Homo sapiens: one gene and its partners. The protein of the gene in region 1 purifies or fractionates together with the protein of each later gene. This does not show direct contact. Each region holds a gene or a part of one and is shown in the gene's direction. Other genes may lie near its edges. The genes, in order: TF, UPF1, KRT72, DLD, F13B, ANGPTL7 and OXCT1.

Evidence for each region.
Region 2: the proteins of TF (region 1) and UPF1 purify together in Homo sapiens (co-immunoprecipitation; one large-scale study listed by IntAct). This does not show direct contact.
Region 3: the proteins of TF (region 1) and KRT72 purify together in Homo sapiens (co-immunoprecipitation; one large-scale study listed by IntAct). This does not show direct contact.
Region 4: the proteins of TF (region 1) and DLD fractionate together in Homo sapiens (co-fractionation; one large-scale study listed by BioGRID). This does not show direct contact.
Region 5: the proteins of TF (region 1) and F13B purify together in Homo sapiens (co-immunoprecipitation; one study listed by IntAct). This does not show direct contact.
Region 6: the proteins of TF (region 1) and ANGPTL7 purify together in Homo sapiens (co-immunoprecipitation; one large-scale study listed by IntAct). This does not show direct contact.
Region 7: the proteins of TF (region 1) and OXCT1 fractionate together in Homo sapiens (co-fractionation; one large-scale study listed by BioGRID). This does not show direct contact.

What each region holds. Positions count from the first base shown.
Region 1 is NC_000003.12:133,791,393-133,794,266, forward strand, and holds part of TF (serotransferrin isoform 1 precursor), read left to right. Parts: 3' UTR 1-2,874. UniProt on the Homo sapiens protein: Transferrins are iron binding transport proteins which can bind two Fe(3+) ions in association with the binding of an anion, usually bicarbonate.
Region 2 is NC_000019.10:18,852,459-18,855,958, forward strand, and holds part of UPF1 (regulator of nonsense transcripts 1), read left to right. Parts: intron 1-528; coding exon 529-613; coding exon of another isoform or gene 614-646; intron 647-793; coding exon 794-892; intron 893-2,118; coding exon of another isoform or gene 2,119-2,142; coding exon 2,143-2,251; intron 2,252-2,420; coding exon 2,421-2,580; intron 2,581-2,665; coding exon 2,666-2,784; intron 2,785-3,466; coding exon 3,467-3,500. UniProt on the Homo sapiens protein: RNA-dependent helicase required for nonsense-mediated decay (NMD) of aberrant mRNAs containing premature stop codons and modulates the expression level of normal mRNAs.
Region 3 is NC_000012.12:52,598,664-52,602,836, reverse strand, and holds the start of KRT72 (keratin, type II cytoskeletal 72), read left to right. Parts: upstream 1-1,373; 5' UTR 1,374-1,384; coding exon 1,385-1,810; intron 1,811-3,534; coding exon of another isoform or gene 3,535-3,566; intron 3,567-3,724; coding exon 3,725-3,939; intron 3,940-4,173. UniProt on the Homo sapiens protein: Has a role in hair formation. Specific component of keratin intermediate filaments in the inner root sheath (IRS) of the hair follicle.
Region 4 is NC_000007.14:107,904,683-107,908,182, forward strand, and holds part of DLD (dihydrolipoyl dehydrogenase, mitochondrial isoform 1 precursor), read left to right. Parts: intron 1-275; coding exon 276-376; intron 377-678; coding exon 679-822; intron 823-1,584; coding exon 1,585-1,686; intron 1,687-3,500. UniProt on the Homo sapiens protein: Lipoamide dehydrogenase is a component of the glycine cleavage system as well as an E3 component of three alpha-ketoacid dehydrogenase complexes (pyruvate-, alpha-ketoglutarate-, and branched-chain amino acid-dehydrogenase complex).
Region 5 is NC_000001.11:197,064,461-197,068,503, reverse strand, and holds the start of F13B (coagulation factor XIII B chain precursor), read left to right. Parts: upstream 1-1,243; 5' UTR 1,244-1,280; coding exon 1,281-1,344; intron 1,345-4,043. UniProt on the Homo sapiens protein: The B chain of factor XIII is not catalytically active, but is thought to stabilize the A subunits and regulate the rate of transglutaminase formation by thrombin.
Region 6 is NC_000001.11:11,188,223-11,192,154, forward strand, and holds the start of ANGPTL7 (angiopoietin-related protein 7 precursor), read left to right. Parts: upstream 1-1,132; 5' UTR 1,133-1,357; coding exon 1,358-1,733; intron 1,734-3,932. UniProt on the Homo sapiens protein: Has a role in the formation and organization of the extracellular matrix.
Region 7 is NC_000005.10:41,807,926-41,811,425, reverse strand, and holds part of OXCT1 (succinyl-CoA:3-ketoacid coenzyme A transferase 1, mitochondrial isoform 3 precursor), read left to right. Parts: intron 1-3,500. UniProt on the Homo sapiens protein: Key enzyme for ketone body catabolism.

The sequences.
Region 1 (2,874 bases):
GGCTGCTTTGGGAGACAGAACCCAGAAACCTGGCATACTGGCAAAAGGGTAAGAATTTCTTACCAGCCAGACTCTGGTCTCTGTCTCTCTGTGCAAACTGCATAAATGAATAGTAAAAGTCACTGTTTATCTCCTCTGTAAAGTTTTGATTAATATAAAAAAAGAATTCTGAGGCCGATCTTAAGCTGTAGTGAATCTGGTGTGCTTTGTGTCTTTCTGTATTGTTTTGTCATAAAGAGGGGTACCTTAGAATAAAATGTGTGCTTAGGACCCCATAGACCTGCTGTTCAAGACACACCAGCAGACTGGTCAGTCATGTCTTTGGGAGCTTGACCTTGTAACCATGTGGCCATGCTTTCTCTTTTCACAGTGGCAGCCTGGGTTTAGGGTTCAATTCCTGGCTTAGGGAATGAGTCCTTTATCTTCTGTCTGTGTATTTATATGTGTTGTGTGTGTACTATAAAAGAGCATTAATTAATTAGCTTAATAATAATAAGAGCTTAAATCAAATATTTTATCAGAAAAGTAAAAAATGTAATGCCTTCTATTTACTTCATGTAACTTAAGTAATCTTTGGGAAATAAAGACAGTTTTAAAGATTATTGGTAAAATAAAAATATCTTCAAAATGTAAATATTTAGTCTAAATTATGCAGGTCAGATATTAGATTTGCAAAATGCTTTAAGGTCATAAACCGCTTCTTTGACTTTTAAAAATTGCTCAATTTATTTTGGAGCATTAGATTCTAGATAAGGCCTGGGGACAAATAGAATTAGCCATGTCCCCTAGCTATGCAAAGAAGGTTATAAAGAAAGGAGATTTTATATAAGAAAGGATCTTATATCGTAAATTCGTGTCCTAAAGTAAAATAAGCGGTTGTTAAAAAAGAGGGATGTTTAGGACAAGTTAGAAAGTCAAAGCATGTCGTAGATGGTCTGTGTAAGTCATGAAATAATTTACAAAAGAGAATTTATGCAAGAAATATACAATTTAACGGTGATTAGACCTCCTAAATGCTTCATAAAATGCCACTATGACTCTTAACTCTACAACTTGCCTGCTTTACAGCTCGGTAAGGCCTGAGACACGTGGAGTCAGATGCTGGAGTCAGACCTTAAGTGTACTTCTCTCTGGGTCCTAGACTCCACAACTAATATATAATTAAAATCCTTAACTTACCAAAGTTTTCACCAAAAGTAAAACTCGCTAAGAGTTAACATTGTAACATGTAAGTGAGACTACTGAAGCAACAGTTTTACATGCAAGTTACGTAAGAAAAGTGAATGCATTTTCAGTGAAAGATTATAACAAGGCATGGGAATGTAGATTTTTTTTTCTGTCTAAAGGGTTAAAGGATTGTTTTAAGTTAGGATAAAGCTAAAAGTTTGAATGAGTTGTGGAAGATTTATAAAAATTAATATTGTAAAAAATTATGTGTGTGAACATATTGACTAAATTTAAAGGGGTATTTTCTGGTTTTTCCATAAATTGAACATCAAAATAAAAGCACAAACAGGGTTTTCTTAAAGCACCGATCTGCTCTTTAACAAACATTTGTAAAGGATTATAAAAGGTTTATGAGAATCTCACCTTATGGTCAAACGGATTAAGATTGGAAAGATATGTCTACAAGGTTTTCTTAAAAATTGGGGTTGACATTAATAGCACACTAATGCAAGGGTGAAATTTGGCTTTCTCTCTTGAACAAGATTTTCATGCAGTATTAAAAGATAATGAAAGATCTTTGTTTGCCTTTTGAATAAACTACCCCCCCACCAAAAAAAAGGAAGGGAAAGACAAGAGACAGATTGTTTGTAAAGTAAGTCTTCCATCTATCAACATGGAAAGGTTTTTGCCTTTTAAAACATTTTTGAGTCATCATTTTGCTAAATGAATGACTATGGTAACCTGGAATTCCATTTCATAATGTCAAGTGTTTTAAATCTTTAACATATTTAATAGGCTTCCCAAAATCAAATTTCAGCTTCAAAATTGTCTTTTCTAACCTCTAACTTTGAGATGCTGCAGAGGGCCCCTGAAGCATCCAAAAGAGAGGTAAACAGAATTATTTGACATGTTTAATTACATGGGAAGCATTGTCAAAAAGAAAAAAATTTAATCTTCTTCAGGTTATATTTTAGTGAATAATATTAATATATGTTCCAAAATTGTATGAGATTTCTAAAATTCCAATATGTCTGAGTATATGCTATCAATCATAATTATGATTATTATGTTATTGTAGACCACAGAAATAACCAAATTTCCTTGTCAATTGTGTTTTTAACTATAACTATTTAAAGTCATTTCCACAGTTAATTGCTTAATGCTGATGCAGTTTCTGAAAACTTCACAAGCATGCAAAGTCCTAGAATATGGTGTCTTTTAGGAGATTCATGAAAGATTGGAAAGGACCCTAAAAAGCACTCTTGAATACAGGTTTCTAATAAGTTTAGAATTATATCATTTGAACTGGGTAAGAATTCCTGGAACTTTAATGAAAAGACTGACTGAGTTCTAAAACTGCTAACCCAAGTAGAACAAAAATTAATTAAATACCAAGAAAATACTTTGCCAGATTTTCATGCTAAATCAGCTGATACTGAAACTGTTTAGATATAAAATTTGAATAAACTCCATCATTTAAATCAAATTACCTATGATAACCCATCAGTTATCAGTGTTATGCACCTAATTTGGGGAAACAACTGGTATTCAAGAGGATATGAGTCTAATGTTAATTAAGCATGAACTCATGGAGAACCAGGATGGCCACCTTGTCCTTCCTAAGTCGTTAAAGCTTTTGTTAGTAAAATTTCTGCATTACATGACTCGTCACGGAAAAGATAAAATGATCCAAATTGAATATATTGA
Region 2 (3,500 bases), on another chromosome or scaffold:
GTGGTCTGAGCCCCCGCCCTCAGATCTGACATCAGCCTCAGTGTTTTCTGTTTAAATCCAACACATCTTTCCCAGTGGGGTCCACAGCTTTGCCCACAGTTGCGAGAGTTAGACTCGGGCGTGATCCCTGTGAAGACCACATTTAGGCAACGGGAGCCCTGGAGCGCTGACCTCCCCTCCCTCCCTCCCCTCCTCTTTCTGTCCCTCCCTCCCCTCCTCTTTCTGTCCCTCCCTCCCCTCCTCTCTCTCTTCCTCCCTCCCACAGCAGCTGCTCCCTGGCCACGGAGGCCTCTGGTGTGCGGTGAAGCCTCCAGACGGGATTGGCCTGTGTGTGTTCCGGGGACTCCTAATGGCTTCTCTTTCAGATGTGCCCTTGGTGGCATTTGGGGCTGCAGGTGCCACTCACGGCGCCTGCTCTCACGGCAGAGGCTTGCTGTAGGGCCCGCCTCATGGGGCCTCGGGCATGTGGAGGCCAGGCCCGGGCCTGTGCTGGAGGCTAACCGGGGCTCTTGTTTTTCATGTGCTCAGACTCAAGATAACATCACTGTCAGGTGGGACCTGGGCCTTAACAAGAAGAGAATCGCCTACTTCACTTTGCCCAAGACTGACTCTGGTAATGAGGATTTAGTCATAATTTGGTTAAGAGGTGATTTTAAGTTTTAAAATATTTGTGACCATAAGTAGCATAAATTCCTAGTTCCACCCTTGTAAAGTGCCCCTTAATTTGAACTCTCCCTGGTGGAAGCGACGGCGTGGGTTAAAATGGCCACCTCTCTCACTTTTTTACCTCAAGACATGCGGCTCATGCAGGGGGATGAGATATGCCTGCGGTACAAAGGGGACCTTGCGCCCCTGTGGAAAGGGATCGGCCACGTCATCAAGGTCCCTGATAGTATCCTTCATGTGAAGAGGGTGTGGCCGGCTGGTGGGAGAGGAAAGTGGGGGCATCAGGTGGAGGCCACTGTGGATTTGATGCTCACTGCTGGGCCAGCATCTCATGCTCTGTGGTGGGTGCTGGTTGGCATCGCCCTCCACTGCTCTTAGGAGAATCACAGGGCCTTCACCTTCAGGGGACAGCTGGTTGTATGGTTGCTTCCCCTCTGCCCGAATGGTGATGTTGGTGATGCCACTTGTGTGGCGCGTCCCTGGGCTGACTCTGGAAGTTAATGTATGCCGCTTGTGTGGCACGTCCCTGGACTGACTCTGGAGGTTAATGTGGCTGCAGGAGCGCCTTACCTGGACGCTGACTCTGCACACGGAGGTTCCAGAAGCCAGTGGTCACATGCAGACCCTCTGAGCACACACTTGCTCCCAGGCCATGTTTGGGAATGTGCAGTGACCTCATGGTGATGCAGCCTGCCGGCCAGAGTGGGGCAGCTGTAAGGCACAGGTGCAGTCAGAGGCTTGGGTGGGGAGGAGTCCTGGGAGAAGACACCGCGGGTCAGACTCAGGCTGCCTCTTGGTGACTGGCCAATGCTGCTGGGGCCTGACCATTCAGCGGTGGCCTCCACAGGGGTAGGGAGAGTTGTCTCCCACACCCACCCTGGGCCTGACAAGCTCATCCTGAACACGTGAGACCGGTTTTGGGGCTCGGGGTCGAGGGAAGGGTGTTGCCTACCGGCCACAGCCTCCTGGAGGGCAGTTTGCTTGTGTATGTGGAGCCTTTTGCTTGGCCGTACTGGGAGGGGTGTTGTTTCTGTGGAACTGTGAGAAGAGCTGCTGTGGCCAAAGCTGGGTTCTGCGAGCTCTGCCTGCCCCTGCTGGCCACATGTGCAGGAGCTCCCGGTGAGGTCCTGGGGCCCAGGATGTGGCTGCTCCCTGCTGGTGAGCGCTGCTGGCTTCGCTGCCGCCCTCTGCGTCTCTGAAAGGGGCCTAGATGGGTGGCTGGGAGTGGCAAGGAGGAACTCCAGGCTGGCTGGGGGTGGGACACCGGCTCATGGTGAGGTAGAGTCTTTCTTCAAGGATGCTGTCCTTCTGGTCTCTGGTCTGGTGTTGGCTGCACGTTTTTAGCGTTTGGTGCAGAGCCAGCGGTGTCTTAAGTAACTAAATTTTAAAAACGCTGTTTAAAGAGCGTGTACCAAGGGTGGCCCAGAAAGGTCAGCCCGGCTTTTGACAAGGATGCAAACTTAACTCAGCACACAGATTATGGCGATGAGATCGCCATTGAGCTGCGGAGCAGCGTGGGTGCACCTGTGGAGGTGACTCACAACTTCCAGGTGGATTTTGTGTGGAAGTCGACCTCCTTTGACAGGTACGTCTTCTCCCATCACTGCCCCCTGTTCCCTGGTTGCCACCTGTGGCATCTTTATGAGCCCTCCCCGTCACTGTGGAGTGGGGTTCCCCACCCAGCTCTGCAAACTCAGGATGTCGGAGAGGCGGCCACAGCTGTGCGTGTCGCCAACCCCAAACCCTCCTCACAGGATGCAGAGCGCATTGAAAACGTTTGCCGTGGATGAGACCTCGGTGTCTGGCTACATCTACCACAAGCTGTTGGGCCACGAGGTGGAGGACGTAATCATCAAGTGCCAGCTGCCCAAGCGCTTCACGGCGCAGGGCCTCCCCGACCTCAACCACTCCCAGGTGCGCGCCGTCCTCAGCGCGCGGGGCCTCGCCCATGGGCCGGGACGCAAGCGGAGGCTGCCCCTAACGGCCGCTTGTATTGAAGGTTTATGCCGTGAAGACTGTGCTGCAAAGACCACTGAGCCTGATCCAGGGCCCGCCAGGCACGGGGAAGACGGTGACGTCGGCCACCATCGTCTACCACCTGGCCCGGCAAGGCAACGGGTAGGGCTGACACGGCCCTTGCGGGCAAGACCCGGGAGGGCTTTAGGGTGGCCAGATGGAAGGCCTGGTGCTGGGAGCCTTGGGCTCTGTCACACCGAAGAGAGCACGTGGCGGGTAGTGTCGCCATGGTGCCTACCGCTCTCTATGTGACATTATTCGTGTCAGCTCCAACCTTAGGATTGCATTTTAGTAACCAGGTCTGCTACTGGTTTAGAAAACTGGGGGCAGGGGGGGCATGGCTGCAGCAGCGTGAGTTCCGTGTGCGGCACTTTATAGTGTGGCGGGATGGTGCAAGTTCCAGCCTTGGCATTGCTTGCGGTGGGTAGAGCTGTGAAGCCTGGGCTGTCTGGATCTGAGCTCCTTCGGCATCGTGTCATTACTGCCTGTTAAAAATGTCAGGAGTTTAAGGCCAGCCTGAACAGGGTGAGACGTCTCTACAAAAAAAAAATTCAGAAATTAGCTGGGGGTAGTGGCGTGCACCTGTGGTCCCAGCTACTCAGGAGGCTGAGGTGGGAGGATTGCTTGAGCCCAGGATGTTGAGGCTGCAATTAGCTGAGATCACACCACTGCACTCCAGCCTGGGCAACAGAGCAAGACCCTGTCTCAAAAAACAGAGTCTTGGCTTACTACGTTCACCGAGCTTCCTCTGGGTAAGCACTGAGCTGCCCCAATGGTGTTGCAGGCCGGTGCTGGTGTGTGCTCCGAGCAACATCGCC
Region 3 (4,173 bases), on another chromosome or scaffold:
ATGTCAGCCAATTACCCCCAGGTACCATTTAACCAACCCATGAGGTCCCCAAGGGGAACCCAGCCTTCAGGGTATCACTGAAGGTGCAGTAACAAGCCTTGCCCTAAGCACTCTGCTGTTTCACAATCATCCTAAATGTCCCTTTGGCCAAGGCCTGGGCTGAGCACTGGGGGAGCAGAGGAGGGAAGGGTGAATCCAGGGGGCCCTGTCAATCTGATAGAGGAAATGGAACACACACCCAGGACTCTGGCAGCTTAAGAAATAAGAGCAATGAAATAATCCCACCTGCATGCCAGAGGAACAGGAGAGCTGTTGCTAAGAGAGGAGGAGACTTGAAGGCAGCTTAAGTTTGAGAAAAGGAAATCGGGTTAGGTGGAAGAAGGAGCCTCTGTAGCTTAAAGGGAATGAAGTTCTAGAATCTAGTTCTTGGTTTTAGATCTGAAGAGTCTTGACCTCTTCCTAATAACTGATCACATTTTGATGCTGAATCAGAAATGACTGGGTGGCAAATGACCTGAGCAGAGGTTTGCTGGATGGGATAAATAAGCCTCTTCTGCTATTAAAAGAAAACAAAAATGAAAACAACCGAAAGCCTTAGGAAACACCATCTGCTAAACCATGCCTGAGTCTTCCTGTACCACCTCCCCAGGCCTTCTTCCCTCCCTCCCAGATAGCATGGTCCCCATTCTTAGTCCAGAAATGCTTAGTGGAGAAATCTTTTCGCTCTGGTCCAAAGTCAACCCTCAACACTTGTGACCAGAGGTCTCTGTGTCCTGCCTTCTCCAACAGACTGAGAGGTCTCTGCAGACGGGGCCAAAATCTCCTCCTTCTGAACTTCCTTCTTGCACAAGGGACAGAGCTGTCCTCATCCAGAAGCCTGGGAGGCAGGAGGAGGACAGGCTAAGGATGATTTTCTGCGATAGTCTTGACTCTATTCATGGCCTTCTGAAGCAGAAGCAGCCTGGACTTCTGCTTCACACACCTCCGTCTCCCCAGACACACACCCAGAGGGTCAGCCCCACTGGAAGTTTCCAGGGGTGATCTTGGGAGTGATAACCCCAGTAATTGGAGGCCAGCAGGTGGAGATAAGGTCGCTAAGCCATGATAATGCAGGAGGTGAGCCAAGTAAATGCTGGGTTCTGGGTCACTTTACAGGGATTCATGGGGAGTTCACGGTGGAACAGACAAAAATCTCGGTGAGTGCATGGTAATTTCCTACATGAAGAACCCAAGAGGCCTCAAGGGATCTAAAAGGTGTTGTCGACATACAAATTAGGCTGACTCCAGCCAGCCAGGCTATTTAAGGGGCGAGCTGGGCCGAGAACGCAGCGGCTGTTTGCGCCCCTTCTGCCTCCCGCGCGGCCAGCACCGGTACTTGCGAGCCATGAGCCGCCAACTGACCCATTTCCCCCGCGGGGAGCGCCTGGGCTTCAGCGGTTGCTCCGCGGTCCTCTCTGGCGGGATCGGCAGCAGCTCCGCCTCATTCCGGGCCCGGGTCAAGGGCTCGGCCTCCTTTGGCAGCAAGAGCCTCTCCTGCCTTGGGGGCAGCCGAAGCCTGGCGCTCAGCGCTGCTGCACGGCGGGGCGGCGGCCGCCTGGGCGGCTTCGTGGGCACCGCCTTCGGCAGCGCCGGGCTGGGGCCCAAGTGTCCCTCCGTGTGCCCACCCGGGGGCATCCCTCAGGTCACCGTCAACAAGAGCCTCCTGGCCCCGCTCAACGTGGAGATGGACCCCGAGATCCAGAGGGTGCGCGCCCAGGAGCGGGAGCAGATCAAGGCGCTAAACAACAAGTTCGCCTCCTTCATCGACAAGGTGAGTCCTCGGGCATTGGCCTGTCCCTGCGTTGGGCGCATGTGCACAGTGGTGCTGGCTCTGCCACTGGCGAGCTGTGTGGGAGCGTGGGCGGGTCATAACCTCTCCGAGCCTCCCTTTTCCATTTGTAAAATGGGCACAATAATGGGTCTTACTCCAGTGGGTTGCGATGAGGCTTAATTGGGATGTTTACGAAGTGCTCAGAACAGTGCCTGGCACATACTTCCAATAAACAGGATGTATTAGCCCATTTTCATGCTGCTGATAAAGACATACCCGAGACTGGGAAAAAAAAAAAGAGGTTTCATTGGACTTACAGTTCTCCATGGCTGGGGAGGTCTCAGAATCATAACGGGAGGCCAAAGTCACGTCTTATATGGCGGCGGCCAGAGAAAAATGAGGCAGAAGCAAAAACGGAAACCCCTGATAAACGCATCAGATCTCGTGATACTTATTCACTATTAGGAGAATAGCAGGAGAAAGACCGGCCCCTATGATTCATTTACCTCCCCCCTGGGTCCCTCCCACAACACGTGGGAATTCTGGGAGACTTAATTCAAGTTGAGATTTGGGTGGGGACACAGCCAAAACGTATCAAGGACCTTCATTTCTTTCTTGCATGAGACAAGACTGTGAGAAGGGAGGGGTCAGGATGTCCAAGGAATGGGCACTTTGAGAGCTCCCAATATCAGAAGAGGAGATGGGACCCACATTCAGGGCAGGGCATTAGGAACAGAGGCCAAGAGACGTTGCAGGACATGGTGCTTGGTGCTTGAGGAGTGGGGTAAGTGTGTAGCCAGGAAGATGATAGAGGAGGTGAGAGAAAAGGGCCAGAAAACTGAAGGGTGAGGCTGAGGAGGCACTTGGAAAGAGTGCATGTAAAGTTACAGGTGTGTGCTGAGGGTGGGGCATCCAGAAATTGGGGTAATAGGGAAGTTGTCTCTGGAGCTTCTGAGGCAATGACCCCAGTGAGTGGAGAGGAGACAGGGAATGGACTTCTCTTGTCTCCACCTGGATGGAAGGTCTAGACGGTGAGTGATAAGGGGACAGCCTGATAACAATAGCTGACATTTATGGTGCCGTCCCAAGTGATTCTCATTTACAATCACAACCCATGATTCTGTTGTTGTTCTGCCTTGCAGATGAGGATATTAAGACATGGGAGGCTAAGAAATGAGCTCACCTTGGACAGGACAGTTGGTGGTGGACCGAGTGTCACCACTATGCTAGGGAAGAGGAATTGAGGTGGCGGGAGGGCACAGGTCTGCATGGAAGAAACACAGCAGCTATTCCAGAGGCCAGAGCATTCTCTTGCTCTTTTATGTCTGTTGTTCCCTAGCATGTTTCCTTCTGCCCCTCAAGCTGAAAGATAGGTGAGAAGAGGAATGCTGGTGTGTGGCAGAGGGCTTGGAGTTATTGAGTCTAAAAATGTGCACCCTGGTCAAGTATGAAGGAACTTTGTGAAGATGTGGTAACTTGCTGTGAACAACAAAGAAATGAACAAACCAAGTGCAATTTAGGCTACACAACAGGAGGAACGCTCTAAATGCCAGTGTGCTTTCCAATGTCACTCCCCAGTCCCTGTTTCTCCCCTGCTCCCCATTTCTCTTTACTCAGAAAACACCAGCATTTATAGCATGAGAAGCTACCTCTGTCTCATGAAAACTCACTGAGGCAGAGGCAGATGGTACCATTGCTTAAGCCCTCTTCCTGATTCCATATAGACCGGGTCCTATTTCTTGTCTTGGAGATCCAGGTGAGCATGTCCCTCGGCTGAATCCACCCCGGGATAAGCCTTGTTTTCTCCTACCCCCAGTCCCCCAGGATGGCTGCCTCTGGTTTTTGGGGCCCTTTCCCCACTCTTGAGAGGCAACAACATGGGGACTCTGGGCGATGACTGCCTTTGGGTTCCAGGTGCGGTTCCTGGAGCAGCAGAATCAGGTGCTAGAGACCAAGTGGAACCTCCTACAGCAGCTGGACTTGAACAACTGCAGGAAGAACCTGGAGCCCATTTATGAGGGCTACATCAGCAACCTGCAGAAGCAGCTGGAGATGCTGTCTGGGGACGGGGTGAGGCTGGATTCGGAGCTGAGGAACATGCAGGATTTGGTGGAGGACTACAAGAAGAGGTGAGTGAGTGGCAGGGAATATGGCCCTGGAGGATCTGATTTCAAATGAGGTTTTCGTTTGGAGATGGCATTTTTGCTTCTGAGATCCTTGCTGATACCGGGGGAGGGAGGAACATCCAGACAGAATGGAACTAGGAAAAGAATAGATCTACCTACACCGGTTCTCCAAACTGTCGAGGAAATGTGTGCTCAATTTCTAGCACTGAAAATGAAGGAATGGGGGAAAGAGAGTTG
Region 4 (3,500 bases), on another chromosome or scaffold:
GTTCAGAGGATATGTTATCACAGTGGGATATAATGTTTTATTTTGGACTGCCTTTTTACCCAAGGTAGACATTTTATAGTGTTTGATAGGTTCTGTTTCTGTGATACAATGATGTTGGCCTTTTGTCAACTATAATTATAAGTTATTACATTTTGAAACTTTAATACTGCCTTTTATAAGCATTAGGTTGAAATTTTCCAGTTGGTGAGTGAAAAACACTGCATATTGCTTCAAGAATTTAGCTAAGAACTAAAGATTAATTGAACAAATTACAGTGTCCGAAGTTCGCTTGAATTTAGACAAGATGATGGAGCAGAAGAGTACTGCAGTAAAAGCTTTAACAGGTGGAATTGCCCACTTATTCAAACAGAATAAGGTCAGTGTTTAATATTCAGATTTCTGCTTTACTTTGAATACAAATTAAACTTTGCATTATAGAGTGATGATATTTGAACTTGGTTACAGGGGAATATTTATTTAATTTAAAATAGCTTGCTAACCTGAAATAGATTTCCCTGACATATATCACAGATTTTTTTGCTGCACCATGGTGTAGCATTACTAAGTAAGGAAGCATTTTGTTTTAGATAAATTATTTACAGAGTAATTTTTCCTTTGAATGATTTATCAAACAAATTACTTTAAACTTTGTGAATTTATAAAGATTATTTTGTAAAGGTTGTTCATGTCAATGGATATGGAAAGATAACTGGCAAAAATCAAGTCACTGCTACGAAAGCTGATGGCGGCACTCAGGTTATTGATACAAAGAACATTCTTATAGCCACGGGTTCAGAAGTTACTCCTTTTCCTGGAATCACGGTATTTATGCTTCATAATTTACAACCATTACAACTTTTCTTTAGAAATACGTTTTATAAGTTATTTATGCTATTTGTGAACTTTGAGAGATTTCTGACTGAAATACTATATTTTGATGGTCATTCAGCTTTGGGAAGTTACCTGTCTTTATTCTGCAGTGATTCTGACCAGCTATAGAACACTTTATATTAAGATATGTTTGAATACAGTATGAAGTTAAAATTGACCATTGCGTTTGGAATATTGGTGGATAAAATTTAAAGTCAGTGTTTTTAATGGGATTTGATGAAATTAGGTATATAGATACCTCAAAACAAATAAATGACTTAGTATTTTTAGTGATTCTACTGAGATCACAGTTTATAAATACATTTATCTCTTCATATCCTTGGAGGATTGGTTCCAGGACCCCCCTTGGATACCAAAACCCACAGATGCTCAAGTGCCTTACATAAAATGACATAGTATTTGCATATAATCTGCATACTTCCTCCTGTATACTTTAAGTCATCTCTGGATTACTTATAATACCTAATACACTGTAAATGCTATGCAAGTAGTTCCTATGCTGTATTGTTTAGGGAATAATGACAAAAAAACCATGTGTACATGTTCAGTACAGATGCAACCATCAATTTTTTTCCTGAATATTTTCAATTAATGGTTGGTTAAATCTGCAAATTTGGAACCCATGGATATGGAGGGTCGACTGTACTAGGTTTTTTCAAATTATTTTGATTATATCTTTTGTTTTTCTTACAGATAGATGAAGATACAATAGTGTCATCTACAGGTGCTTTATCTTTAAAAAAAGTTCCAGAAAAGATGGTTGTTATTGGTGCAGGAGTAATAGGTGTAGAATTGGTAAGTGTTGTCTTTCTGCCTCTTATTACCTCCTTGGAGTTGGAAGGGACTTAAAGGTCCCCTTTTTGATTTTTTGTATAACATTACAGGCTGATCAGCATTGAGTTTTGCTTAAACACTTCTAGTAATAAAGAGTTTACTTTTGTTTTTTTCAAGACAACCTATTTATGTATTTACTCATTTAGAATGTTCTCCTTTATTTTAGTCTGTTTCCTTGTACCTTCCACCCTTCCATTTCCTAGAACTGGTCGAATTCTTTTTTAATATGACAGCCATTCAGATATTTGAGGACAGCTTTTATCCTGGGCAAATTGCATTCCAAATAAAGATTATTCTCTTTACCATCACATACATGATTTGGCTCTTCCCTTCTCTATCCTCATCTTGATGCCTCTTAACTTAGGTTTTAGAAATGTCAAACTACTTGCATTTCTTTGAACACCATGTTATTTTAGACCTTCTGTCTGCCTTGTTCTCCCTTCTTGTCCATCTGGCAGCTTTCCACACATTTCCAATGACCTCCCTCCATTTTAGAGTCACTGTGCCTTGTAAACACCAGGAATTGCTCTACTTCTGAAATAATAAATTCAGATATTTTATTATGTAACCATGACCTCCTTTCCTCTTTTACTCAGTTATTCATAGTGTACTTTGTACCCTTTTTTAGGTTTTCTAGTCCATAGATCTACTTTTTTGCAATCTTCCCTTTCCAATCTTGACTGCGTTCCTGATCAGCTTAGATGCCATAGTCCATCACTTTAACCACACTCTTACAGATGTCCTTGAGTTGCTTGTCTCACTGTTCTGTCATATCTGCTTGGCAAAACTCTAGTTCGGTTTGAATGCAGCAGTCTGCCTTTTTTATGCTATTTCCAGGCTGTTGACTACACCTGGAGAAAAACACACCCTACTCATTGGTACTTGTATTAATTCTTGGCACAAACCTTAACAAGAACCTCAGCCTTGCTGACAGTTTATTATTTCCTAAGATGGTACACTGCCCTGGTCTCTGCAATGGCCATTTTCATTTTCTACTCTTCTCAAATCTCTGCTTGTATACTGTCTGCTCTGCCTGTGGATGACCTTGTCTTTTAAATATTACATAAAAGAGAAATCAGATGAGAACTCCCTCAAGTTGATGTCCTAAATTTGATAATGCTTTTACCTGTTGTTACACCTATCCTTTTGATTACCTCTCCTATTACTGTGGAAATGCCATTTTCCCTAAGACTAATCCCTTTACTTGTGCTTGGTAGCACATCATCTGCCTTTTCAGAGACTTGGTTTTGTGATTTTTATTCTTGTATTTTTCAGTCTTCAAACTCCTTCCTTTTATTTACAATTTCATGTGCTTCTATGTGTGTACCTGTGATGCATTTGCACTCATTAACACAGGTTTGTGTGCACATAAATGCTCCTTATCTTGGTCCCATGTCCTTCTTGAGTTACCAATTTTGTTCGCACTTTTCCTTCAAAACCCAGCTTCTCAAAAGAGTTGTCCATGCTTTATTTCATCAACTTCCACTCACTCAGTCTATGGCTTGTGCCAATAAATTGCTCTTAGGGCATGAATCTATTTATTGCTCAATCTGTTGGACTAATTTCTTCACTGCTTTATTTGGCAGTAATTAGCATTGCTGATTTTCTTGCCTTTGAAACACTTTGCCTAACTTCTGTGATTTCATATTCTTCCATTTTTACATCTGCTCTTTGGGCTGAATTCTCCATATTATGCAAGTTCCCCTTTCTTAGGCTTCCCTTTAATTGTTAGTATTTTTGTTTTTCTTTTTTTTTTTTTTTGAGTCCGAGTCTTG
Region 5 (4,043 bases), on another chromosome or scaffold:
CTGTTAAGTCTGCACACCAGATTCACGCCCTTTCCTGAGTTCTGGACAGGAAAGTTTGTGTTCGGTTGGAATTGTTACTAAGTTCAGCTGGAGGTTTCCTTCTCCCTGTGGTCTTTTCCCAGTTCCTCCGGCAGCCCCTGTGAGACAAGTCAGAAATGGCTTCTCTGGGGACCCACAGAGACGATGGGGCTTTACCCTTTGCTTCCTCTACCCCTGTATTTCGCTCAGCTCTCTAAATTGTCTGAGCTCCAGGTAAGGTCAAATCCTTCTCCTGTGATCTAGACCTTCAGGTTCCCCAAGGGTGTGTGTTCAGGGGTGGACAATACCCCTTTCACACTTTTCACAGTTTGGGCATTCACAGTATGTGGGCTATTTTCTGGGTCATGCAGGAGCAATATACTTTCTTCAGAGGGTCTGTGGATTATCTTGGCTTTCCTGTTATATCCTTGCAGCAGTTCTTGGAGCAAAAGTTCACAATGCGAGTCTCCACATCCTGCTCTGTCCATCCAAGTGGGAGCTGCAAGTTAGTCCTGCCTCCTATCCACCATTTTTTCCTATTTTGTATTTTAAATTAAAACTCATTAGAATGTAAACTCCATGAGGGCAATAATTTTAATCCAGTTTTTTCACTGCTAAATACCTCAAAACTGTTACATGTGCTGCCATTATCATGGACGTTCTAAACATTTCTCATGAATGAATGTTGATATAGCACAGTGCTGATCTCACCACCTGCCACAAAGTAAAAACTCTCTAAATGTCAAACACTACTATTATAAGTAATACTATTCTATCATTGAGACAACTATGGTTCTGTATCTCTTTAAGGAGTGCAGTCTAGGCAACAACATATTTCAACATCAGGTATCTGTTATCTCATGTTCCTAAGTTCATCTTTTTACCTGATCAATATTAGTAAAGATCTATGGCCTCAAGTGAACTTTACTCTATGAATTTACAATTGGGAACTTAGGTTGAAAATTTACCTAGTATTATTTATTCTGCTGCTATAATTTATTATTTATTCTGCTGCTATTGTTGCCCTAATCAGTTATCATGCTCTTACTGGACTCTGACATGGTAAGTAATGTCAATTAATATAGTTGTGTTATTTTAACATTATTTCAAAATATTTTAAGTGAAATATAAGACTCGTTACAAAAGGACTTAGACAGAGGTTATAAATTATTAACTTTTTCCTCAAGAGAAGTATTGTGTACTTAATGACAAGTTCCTAGTGCTTAGAATTGTTAAAATCTTTGTGAAGCACACCACTGAAGATGAGGTTGAAAAACCTGACTTTTATCATCATATTGATAATCTCAGGAGAACTCTATGCAGAAGGTAAAATTAATTCTTAATATTCTTTATTCTCTAAAACATACAAATGGAGATTCTAATATTTATACAACTCAAGTTTTAATATACTCTTCTATTTTCATTATCAATTTTATAACATATTTTATAAATATAACTTTTTATAATATTTAGACCTTTTCCTTTGAGCAAAATTAGTAAAGTGTTCTTACAGTAGCATAAGTCAGAAAAGCAAAACAAAACAAAAACCCTTGTATCTCTAGGGGGCATAGGAGACCAGGATCTAAATACTTCGAAAAGGTTTTCAGGTTAACAATATGTCCATTTCGAAGTCACATGTTAACTTTAATTCTAAATTTATGCTAGAATCCATTCCTAATACTGACAAAACTTGTACAATTTTAATTCTGTTCATAAGGTGAGAGTTTAATGTGGGAAATTTGAAAAGGAAATAGCCATAAATATTTTTTACTTTTGAGACTTTGATTTTTATCACAATGAATTATTCATTTGTTGGAGACATTAAGTAGTGATTAGTAGGTGAACCATATAATTGCTTGTACAAACAGGGACACTTAGAGAGTAAAAGAGGGGCTCTATTAATAACTGTTTGGACAACACATGTAAATCAGGACTTTCCAAACAAACCAATACCTATGGACTCCCTATTAGAAAGCTTTATAGTCAGATTGCCCAATGTGTAAGATTAGTGTGCGAGTGGAAGCTAGGCAGTGTACATGGGTATGTTGTTCAGGAACATTATCAATATTATCAGGCCATAGGATGAAGAATCCAGGGAGGACACTTAGCATTAGCAAGAGTGAACATACAAAGAAGGAAGCTACAGCAATACAGCTTTTCTAAAATAAACATTTTTGGGAATTTGTTGAAATTAAATACATAAGTTTTAACTGTGTTTTAGTTGAATAGTTAACTATAAATTTTCTACCAAAACATCTATAATTAAAATTATAAAAGTGAAAGACACAGAATTAATCTTATTTTATACTTTTAATTCTATAATAGGATGATTTTTGCATGAATTTCTTTTGATTTTATTTTTCTGTCTAAATAGGGAAATACCAGCAGATATAATTGTCTGTTATCTATACCATAAAGACATTGCAATATTCTAGTTAATTTTCTAATTATTATAAGGTTATAATGCTATTTTACACAACAAAAAAAAAAGTAAGCTGCTTGAAGACCAAGACAATGATTTTATTTTTGCATGCTTCTCTCAACTCCCATTGTGCACTTCAGGGACAAGAATTGAATTAATTGTGTTTCTCATTTCATGGTATGCAAGTATTATTGGCCTATGAAAGGTCTCACTCTTGCTTTACTTACACATTTTATCCCCTTATTCCTAATCTTGAAGTCCATTTCCCCTGGGACCTACTACAATGTTTTAACATGTTACTCTAGCTCTCTCAACCACAAATAGCTCTGGAATGAATATTGTAATATAACCAACTTATCTTTCTGTAAGAATGTCATCAGTCTGTATTCACTCACAGATAGCATTATTGAGTCTATTCTTGTACTTGATTTCTGTAATGAGAGATTACTTTTGCAGAATGGCAGTTTTGAAGTATATCATCTCTGAGAGAGGATGTAAATTGTTGCTCCTCATCATTCTCACCAACACCTCATATTGTCCATTTTTGTACTGGTTGCTATATGGTTATTCATAAAGTGATATCCCATTTTTATTTATTTACCATTCTCTGATCAGTAGTAAGTGTGTCCATCGCTTCATGTACTTTTTTTAATATGTTCAGACATCTGTGATTTCCTGGTTTATATGTGATTAGTATATTCCTCACATTTCTCATTAATTTTTTGTCAGGAATTCATATTCTCCAAGGCATTCCAGCTACCTTAACAAATAATGTGCCTATCCTGGTGGTGGAGGGAGATGTCCCAGGACAGAGAGTCTTTAAAGCCACAACCTAGGATTGTTGTGCAGAGAATACTTTGCTGCCCCTCCCTGACAAGCAACTGTGCCCCTCAGGGAAATTTCTTGTGTATTCACCATTGCACTGCTATTTTGGAAGACTCTTTTTATTGTAAATTCCTTTGGTGCTTGGGTGTGAAAAAATGGTGAGAATAATTCTCAAGGAATGGGGACTATCCAGCCCATGTTTTTCTGTCTGCTCCATCAGATAGTGGAAGTTTTGTTGCTCATCATTCCACATCCATTTCCTTCAAACCTAGGCTAGCACTACTAGTATTTTATGTCTCATAGTAGCATTAAGGTATACAGTGATCAACCAAGGCATTGAAGCCGTAGTAATCACACTGGATCTAGGCCTTCTTCCATCCATGACTGCCCATGTTTCTTCCCACCACAGCTCCTAGGATTGTTCGAGCATTTCTTTCTTTTAAGTGTTTTTATGACTTTAAGATCTTCAACATAAAGATATATTTTTAAAATATATGTTTTATTTGGAGTATAACATATCCAGAAAAATGCAAAAATCACAGGATACACTTATATAGTTTTTACAAAATTTTACACCATCCAGATCAAGATATAGAACAGTGATAGTACCCCAGAAATATGATCCTTCTAAGGCACTAAACCCCAAAGGTAACCATTCTGACTTCTATTATCATGGATTAGTTTGTTTTCTTTTAAAAAGTTATGCAAATGTATACATTAATTCATATGTGATTGGCTTCTTTCACTCAATATTATGTTTATGAGATTCACCATTTGT
Region 6 (3,932 bases), on another chromosome or scaffold:
AGAGGAACCTTTGTATAGATTCTTAGTGAAAAGCTTATTTTAAGGATGTTTGCTGAAACTCCATGTTTTTCACATTTCTTTTCAAAAGAGCATTGTCCTTCATATATAGTACATGAAAAATTACAATATTCATGTTTTTTAGATACAAAGTCATATACAAATAGAGGAGGAATAATTTCAAATTGCAAACCATACCAGCAAAGAAAGAGGGAAATGAGACTCTAGATATGGATTTATTAGGTGACAGGGATTCTTTTCTCTATATTTTAATATATTTTCCAAGTTTTGAACCACGGGCTAAGGATGGGCCTGTTCTCTGTCCTGCCTAGAAACTGACAGAAGCATGGGTGACCAATCCCAGACATGCTTGGCACTGCTGAGTTTTCATCTCTGTTGTAATCTTCTGACACCTCCTTGCAAAATATCAAGTGTTATATGCTAATACTGGCCCTCTCTTTGTTGAAGGAGAAAGCATGTAAAAAGACAACTGTCCAAACCCTGTGGCTACAAAGTCTTTTTTTGGCTTCCTAAGAGATTTACTCTATTCTTCTATTTCTAGAACTTTTCTAAGTTGGAAGATTTCAAATGTGAGATAGTGTTAGATCCAGGTTGAGTAAGGATTTTATAAAATACTAAATAATGATCAGAGATGGGAATAATCAGCCTAGATAAAAGCATATTCAGCAGGATGTCAAAATATACCAGATCCTCATATAAACAGCATGGATTACATTAACAGGCCTCCCTGGGTGAGTAGCGTCTCTTTCGCCTACCTTACGCTCACCCCATGGTTATATAACCTTTTGAACGGAATTTGGAAATTCTTCTGACCCTGTCCTGCTTGCTGATAGAGTTGAGCCAGTGGCTGGCAGGGGCATAATCTAATAGGCGAAACTGGAAACACACAAATTCACAGTCCTCTTGTCTTAGCCCAGAGACTGTACAGGCAAGGAAAGAAAGACTCGCCCCATCTCCCTCCTCCCCTCCTCTGGCCTAAGTTGCCGCTGACTTCACCCAACAGGCACCTGACCCTCCCAGATGAGCTGGGAGGGGCTAAAGCCTGGTGCAGCCATGGTAGGGGTGGAGGTACAGGCAGCAAACAATATTTAAGATGCTGACTTGTGGAGCATTCGGGCTTGGAAGGAAAGCTATAGGCTACCCATTCAGCTCCCCTGTCAGAGACTCAAGCTTTGAGAAAGGCTAGCAAAGAGCAAGGAAAGAGAGAAAACAACAAAGTGGCGAGGCCCTCAGAGTGAAAGCGTAAGGTTCAGTCAGCCTGCTGCAGCTTTGCAGACCTCAGCTGGGCATCTCCAGACTCCCCTGAAGGAAGAGCCTTCCTCACCCAAACCCACAAAAGATGCTGAAAAAGCCTCTCTCAGCTGTGACCTGGCTCTGCATTTTCATCGTGGCCTTTGTCAGCCACCCAGCGTGGCTGCAGAAGCTCTCTAAGCACAAGACACCAGCACAGCCACAGCTCAAAGCGGCCAACTGCTGTGAGGAGGTGAAGGAGCTCAAGGCCCAAGTTGCCAACCTTAGCAGCCTGCTGAGTGAACTGAACAAGAAGCAGGAGAGGGACTGGGTCAGCGTGGTCATGCAGGTGATGGAGCTGGAGAGCAACAGCAAGCGCATGGAGTCGCGGCTCACAGATGCTGAGAGCAAGTACTCCGAGATGAACAACCAAATTGACATCATGCAGCTGCAGGCAGCACAGACGGTCACTCAGACCTCCGCAGGTAAGGAGACCAGTCCCCTGAGGGAGCGTGGAGTGCCTCCCCATCTACAGCACTGCTTCTACATATCCTGGTCATCAGAACCACTACTGGGGCCTCTTTTGTGGGTACACTTTCCCTTTAGTAAAGGCTTATGCAGTATTTCCTTTGACTTCTAATGCTATGTAAGTTTACCTAACACCTTCACGGGTCTCTTTTATCCACACAGTGTTTCAGCCTACCATCTTGGAGTGCTGAGATACTACATGGTTTGCCCAAAGTCACCCAGCAAGTCTTAGAAGCAGGGTTCAAGTCTTCCTGATTGGTGTAGCTCTGCTACTTCCTCACCAAGAGCTGACAGGCTATATCTCAAGAAATTCCAAGGAAGCACCAAACTGTAACAGCTGTTCCTCTGGAAGCAAAGTTTTGCCAGAAACAGTTCTCTGGTGTTCCTAAGATTTACCAGGAATGAGCATTAATGGAATTTTGTGTCCTCTCTCTGTAAACGTAACTCTTCTCATTGGCTCAGAGTTAAGTGTAGAGACACATAACCATGTGAAGAGTCCCTTTGTGTTCAGGAAGGATGCGGCTCCTTAAGGTTCCTCAATTGTGATACGTCTATTTTTTTCCATGGTCTTAAATGAATTTCTCCGAATACAGGATTTTTTAAATGCAATGCTGAAATATAGACTTAATAGGCCAAAAATAAGATAAATTTAATCTTTCTTTTGCAAAATAACTTTTATTTCTGGTTAGCTCAGCTCAGGTGGGCCAACATGAATTTACGGTTTAGAGATAAAAATTTGGTTTTCTGAAATTATCAGGAAAATATTAGTTGTAAGGAGCATATCCTATAGACATGTCATTTCTTGCTGATATAAAAACCATTGGTCCCATTATAAACTACATGAAGAACAAAGACATGATCAGCTTCTACTGACTAAGTCAATGGTTAACCTCAGCTCAAATTAAGAAAAAGTTTTAACATGAAACCAAGCTTGAAAATTCTGTTACCTGAACCAACATGTATCAATCACTTTCTAAGCATGGACTTCCGGGCCCTCAGTTTGGGATTAGAAAGGTATTCTCAGGCCATTTTCCAGACAAGTGAGTCCTGATTTGGTCTGTGAGATGAAACCAGACATGCGGAAGACCAGGCCAGACAGAGGAATCTGACCGTGCCACTTCCTGCTCATCCAAACAGGAGGCTTTCTCACCATCCTGCAAGGAGGTTCTTGGGGTCAAGTGCAGCTCTCCCACCAGGTCTCTTGCTCTTCTTGCCCAGGACATCATTCCTTATTTTTCTTCTCTATGACCAAGTGCTCAGTTACCCTTATATTCTATAAGTAGGTAGTCCCTTAGAGGAAGCAGTAAGTTGGTGCTTTCACCACTAAGACGAAATGAAGAATAGTGATGGCGAAGGCACACGTACTCTACCTCCCTTTCCCAAGGTGCTCTGCAAGAGAACCTATGTGCCTCAGACAACTCCCATCTGCCATCTTGGTGCTCCTCTCTAAGGTCCCAGTGCAGTGGTCACCAAGAAAAGCACCCCGAGACATAGCAGGCAGGAAGCTTCTCTTGGATAGTAAGGGCCGCAGTCTCTGAATCCTATCAGAAAAGGCTGTCTCTTCCACTATGCTCTTTGATATTTAGAATACAGAGCTTAAATCCTGCATAAAGTAGCAGCTCCATGGCCCTAGAGTAAAAAAACTGGCCAGTCTGATGCTCTCATTTCATTGTTTTAACAAAACTTCTGGGAGGAAGGCCTCAAAGGTTCTTCTGAGTGTTTTGAGGTGCTAGCTGGATGGAAGGGGAAAATATGTGATAATAAAATCTATCTCCCTTAATTATGGTCTCAGGTGGCAGTAGCCACCATCTCTGAACAACAACAAAAACAACCAACCAGGAAACATCAACAAAACCAGACTCTATGAGATATTCACGACTGATTTGTTATAGTGGCGGCTGTCTAAGAAGTCTGAATCTATCTGACAGGAGTATCTGTTACGTGGCCCTCATACACTGTAACATTTCTAGAATTCATGGCCCAGCTATAGCAGAATAATTTATTTCAGAGTTAACCTGAAACCACCTGTTGGAACGTCCCACTAATGCTATCCAGGTGAAGGGCTTCCCTACCCCTCTGCTCCACCGCTAGTAAAGCCAAAATACACCCCCTCTGGATCTCCCCATATCCACCTCTCCCAAATGCAGACACTGATG
Region 7 (3,500 bases), on another chromosome or scaffold:
CCTGTATGTTTTCAGGGTACCTGTGATAATTTGACATATTCGTATAACATAAAGGTAAAATCAGGGTAATTGGGATATTCATTACCATATTTATCTATTCTTTATGCTAAGCACATTCAAATTATTCTCTTCTAGCAACTTTGAGAGGTACAATAGATTTTTAACTATAGTTATCCTATTTATCTATTGAACGTGAGGTCTTACTCACATTTCCTCTTCATTTTACTCATTTTACTTCATTTTAACATCCAGAGCACCTCTGCATTTAACTTGTAACTTCTCTTATTGCTTATTGTCTCCCCCTTTTATTTTTCTAGACTTCCACAGCTGCTTTTTTTTTTTTTCCCTCTCTTTTGGAGTTAATGTTTCTCATGATTCTAGACATTATTGCTTGTTGTCTGTTTTTTTTCTTTTCTTTTTGGCAAAAGAAGTTTCCTCCTAAACTTTTTTGAAACTTAAAATGAGTCAGGAAGAAAGCCTGGAATGTGAGTCTCCCTCTTCCTCCCCCTCAACAGCCCTTACTTTGTATCGTACACAGAGTTTTGCAGGTGTGTATAATTTTTCGCTAACACCATTTAGGGTTGGGTCCATTTTTGTGTCTATAACAGATTGAGGTTGTCACTAAAATAAAATAAAAAATGAGGACGTTATTGCCTTGCAGCTCCTCTTTTCTCTTACCTGAGATATAATGTTTGCCAAGCAATCACAAACACATTGTCACCAAGGGATGAATTCTTATCCTTCTCTAAGCTTTAAAATAAGTTTTCAGTTATAAAGTAGGAAGAGTGCAGTGCAGAGAAAGCAATCTTTTAAAACAAAGTTCAGATCAATAACAACATTTCCTAGTGTCTATTTTTCTGTTAATGACTAAAGACAAGTACCAATTAGAGAAGCCTCAAACGTCTGGATTTCTGGTTGTAGCAAGTGGTGGGGCATGAGAACTATTCATAGTGCCATGGAGAAGTCCGGGTTGTTCTTAGCTACCTCTCTTCCATCTTGATCTTGCCTGAGGATACTTACATCTGCCCATTGCTTTGCCCTGAGGCTTTTCCTTTGTCCTTTATTCTTTATTACCCATTTCTAACTTCAGGAGGAAAACTCTGCCATCTTTAGTAAGGGATCTTTTATTTTTATGTTTGTCCTAACCAGCTCATTTTAGTCATCATTTTCTCATCAGGTTTTCCATTAACGCTTATGTTTAAATCGCCTGATCTCACTAGACTTTTTAATCCTCCCATTGCTCCTTCCTTATTGTTCTCAAGATCACACGAAACTGGCACTGAAGTCAGTCCCTTCAATAGCTAGCATTAAGATAGTTCTGCCTCTTCATTTTTTTTTTTAAACTCTTTTCATAGATTGTCTGAAAACATGTTTTCTTCTTTTGGTTTGTACTTCAAATATTTTCTTTCTTAGCTATTAACTCTGCTAACCAACTCTGAGAAAGCTTTGATTTTTGTATAGACGTTTTCAATACTGTTGAGTGTTGTTATTTTGACAAATGCTGCACATGCATTTTCTACAGTCTGAAAGCCATTTATATTAGGATGACAAAACATGGAATTGTTTATGTTTAGCTAGATTCTTGCTTATCGGAGTTGTTTTACCAGGACATATTCATTCTGTTAGTTCTGAGAGTTATGATATAATTGTCCTTGGTAATGAAGCTTTGTCTTGATTTGGTGTTTTCTGTTGAAACATTCTTTGATGGAACCAAAAGAAAATAGTGGCGGGTTTCCATCAGCATTTTCAGTTTAAGTGAGCAATACTTTTTTTTCTTCCTTTTTTATTATGTTCTTTGCCCCTGCTAGAGGGTAAGGCAGGAAGACCAAAGGAAGCTGCTGTCACAATCATAGCAAGAGATTTGAGGGCCTGACCTTTTGGAGCAATATTAGGCATGAAAAATAATTCACATTATTATTTTCAAATGTGCAGGCAAGAAGGGTTTGCTTAGTTTAGTTCATAATGTGACTGCTTTTAGGGTTTAGAAACTTCAGTTTTTCTTAGACTCTCTATTTTCTTTTTAACATGCCCTCTTTGGTACATGTCAAACTAATTGTGAGATTTATCACATGCTCCACTTATGATTTTCTAGTTTTAGAAACTTAGTGTTTATCACATCTTCTGAAAAAATAACATTGTGGGTTTCAGTTTTGATTATAAAAGTAAAAGGAAAACAAAAACCACTTGTACTATTACCCAGAGATAACAATTCTTAGCATTTCCGTGTGTTTCCTTTTATTTTCTGTAGGTATATAAATAATTGTCTATCCCAAAGTGCATTTCTATAAATTTTTATTTACTTATACAAAATCTTGCATTTTATGAAACATGAAATTATGAGATCATTAAATATTATGAGTGCATAATATTGATTAATCACATGGCTACACCATGTTTATTTGACCATTTCCCTATTGCTGACATTAAAGTTGTTTTCAATTCATTATTATAATAAATTTTGTGATTAGTGTTTTCATGAATAATAAATCTTCATGTCTATCCTCAGGATACTGGATTAATGTATAAACACATTTTTAAAGTCAAGAACTTCTTTGAAGGCTAAAACTGAATATGGAAAGATGTGAATGAGCCCTAATGGCTGAAAGTTCCAACCAGTTGAAGAGGTAGCAGTAGTGCTTAGCTGCTCTGCATTCCCCACCTCCACCTCGAATAGAAAATACTGGAGCATACAGAGTTTTCAAGGGGAGGACATAGAGTGCAGTGGCAAGGGGTCTTCGGCCCCACTTTCCCTGTCTCCTCACTCATCCCCAGATGCCTCTCTACCCAGTAGTTCAACTTGGATGCCGACATATTTTCTGACCTTTCCTTGGAATTTTTGTTTGATTTTTCTGTTTATCAAAGAAGATAGCTTTTATCCACCATGTCCTTGCCTTTTTCAGCTATTTGTGAGCATTGCACAATAAGTAAAATGTCTTCTGTAAGCCCTGGTATTCTTGCACTGTAGGAGGAGCCTAGTGAAGGCATATAGTAGTAGAACAGCATAAGAAGGGCTACTTAACCTCACAGATTTCCAGATTTCAGTGATTAGTTTAGGAAACAAAAATCAATACTACTATCCTTGTATAAGTCAGTTCATGGAAGCAAACGTTTGTTTTGGACACTGTATCTGTTAAGCTGAGTACTCACAACTTAAAGGTGTGTATGTTTGTGTGCGTGCGTGTCACCAGAAAGCTAATTCTTTCACCACAACAATGTTGAGTTTAGTTTTTCTTGATCCTTGTTCTTTTGAACTGTTTTATGTTGATAGAAAAATTGTCTTTTAAATTAATTCTAAAATAACAGACTAATGTGGAGGCATTTCATATTGCTATATGACCTTATTCTTGGTGAATGACTTTGATTCTAATTAAATTGAGTATTTCTAGTTATTAATTAATATTTCAGTTTTGAAGTTTCCATATTGGAATTAATTATCTGTCTTTAAGTAAATTATTTCAGCAATTGCAGTTGTATCACGATCCTAGGAAGCTAACAAGAAT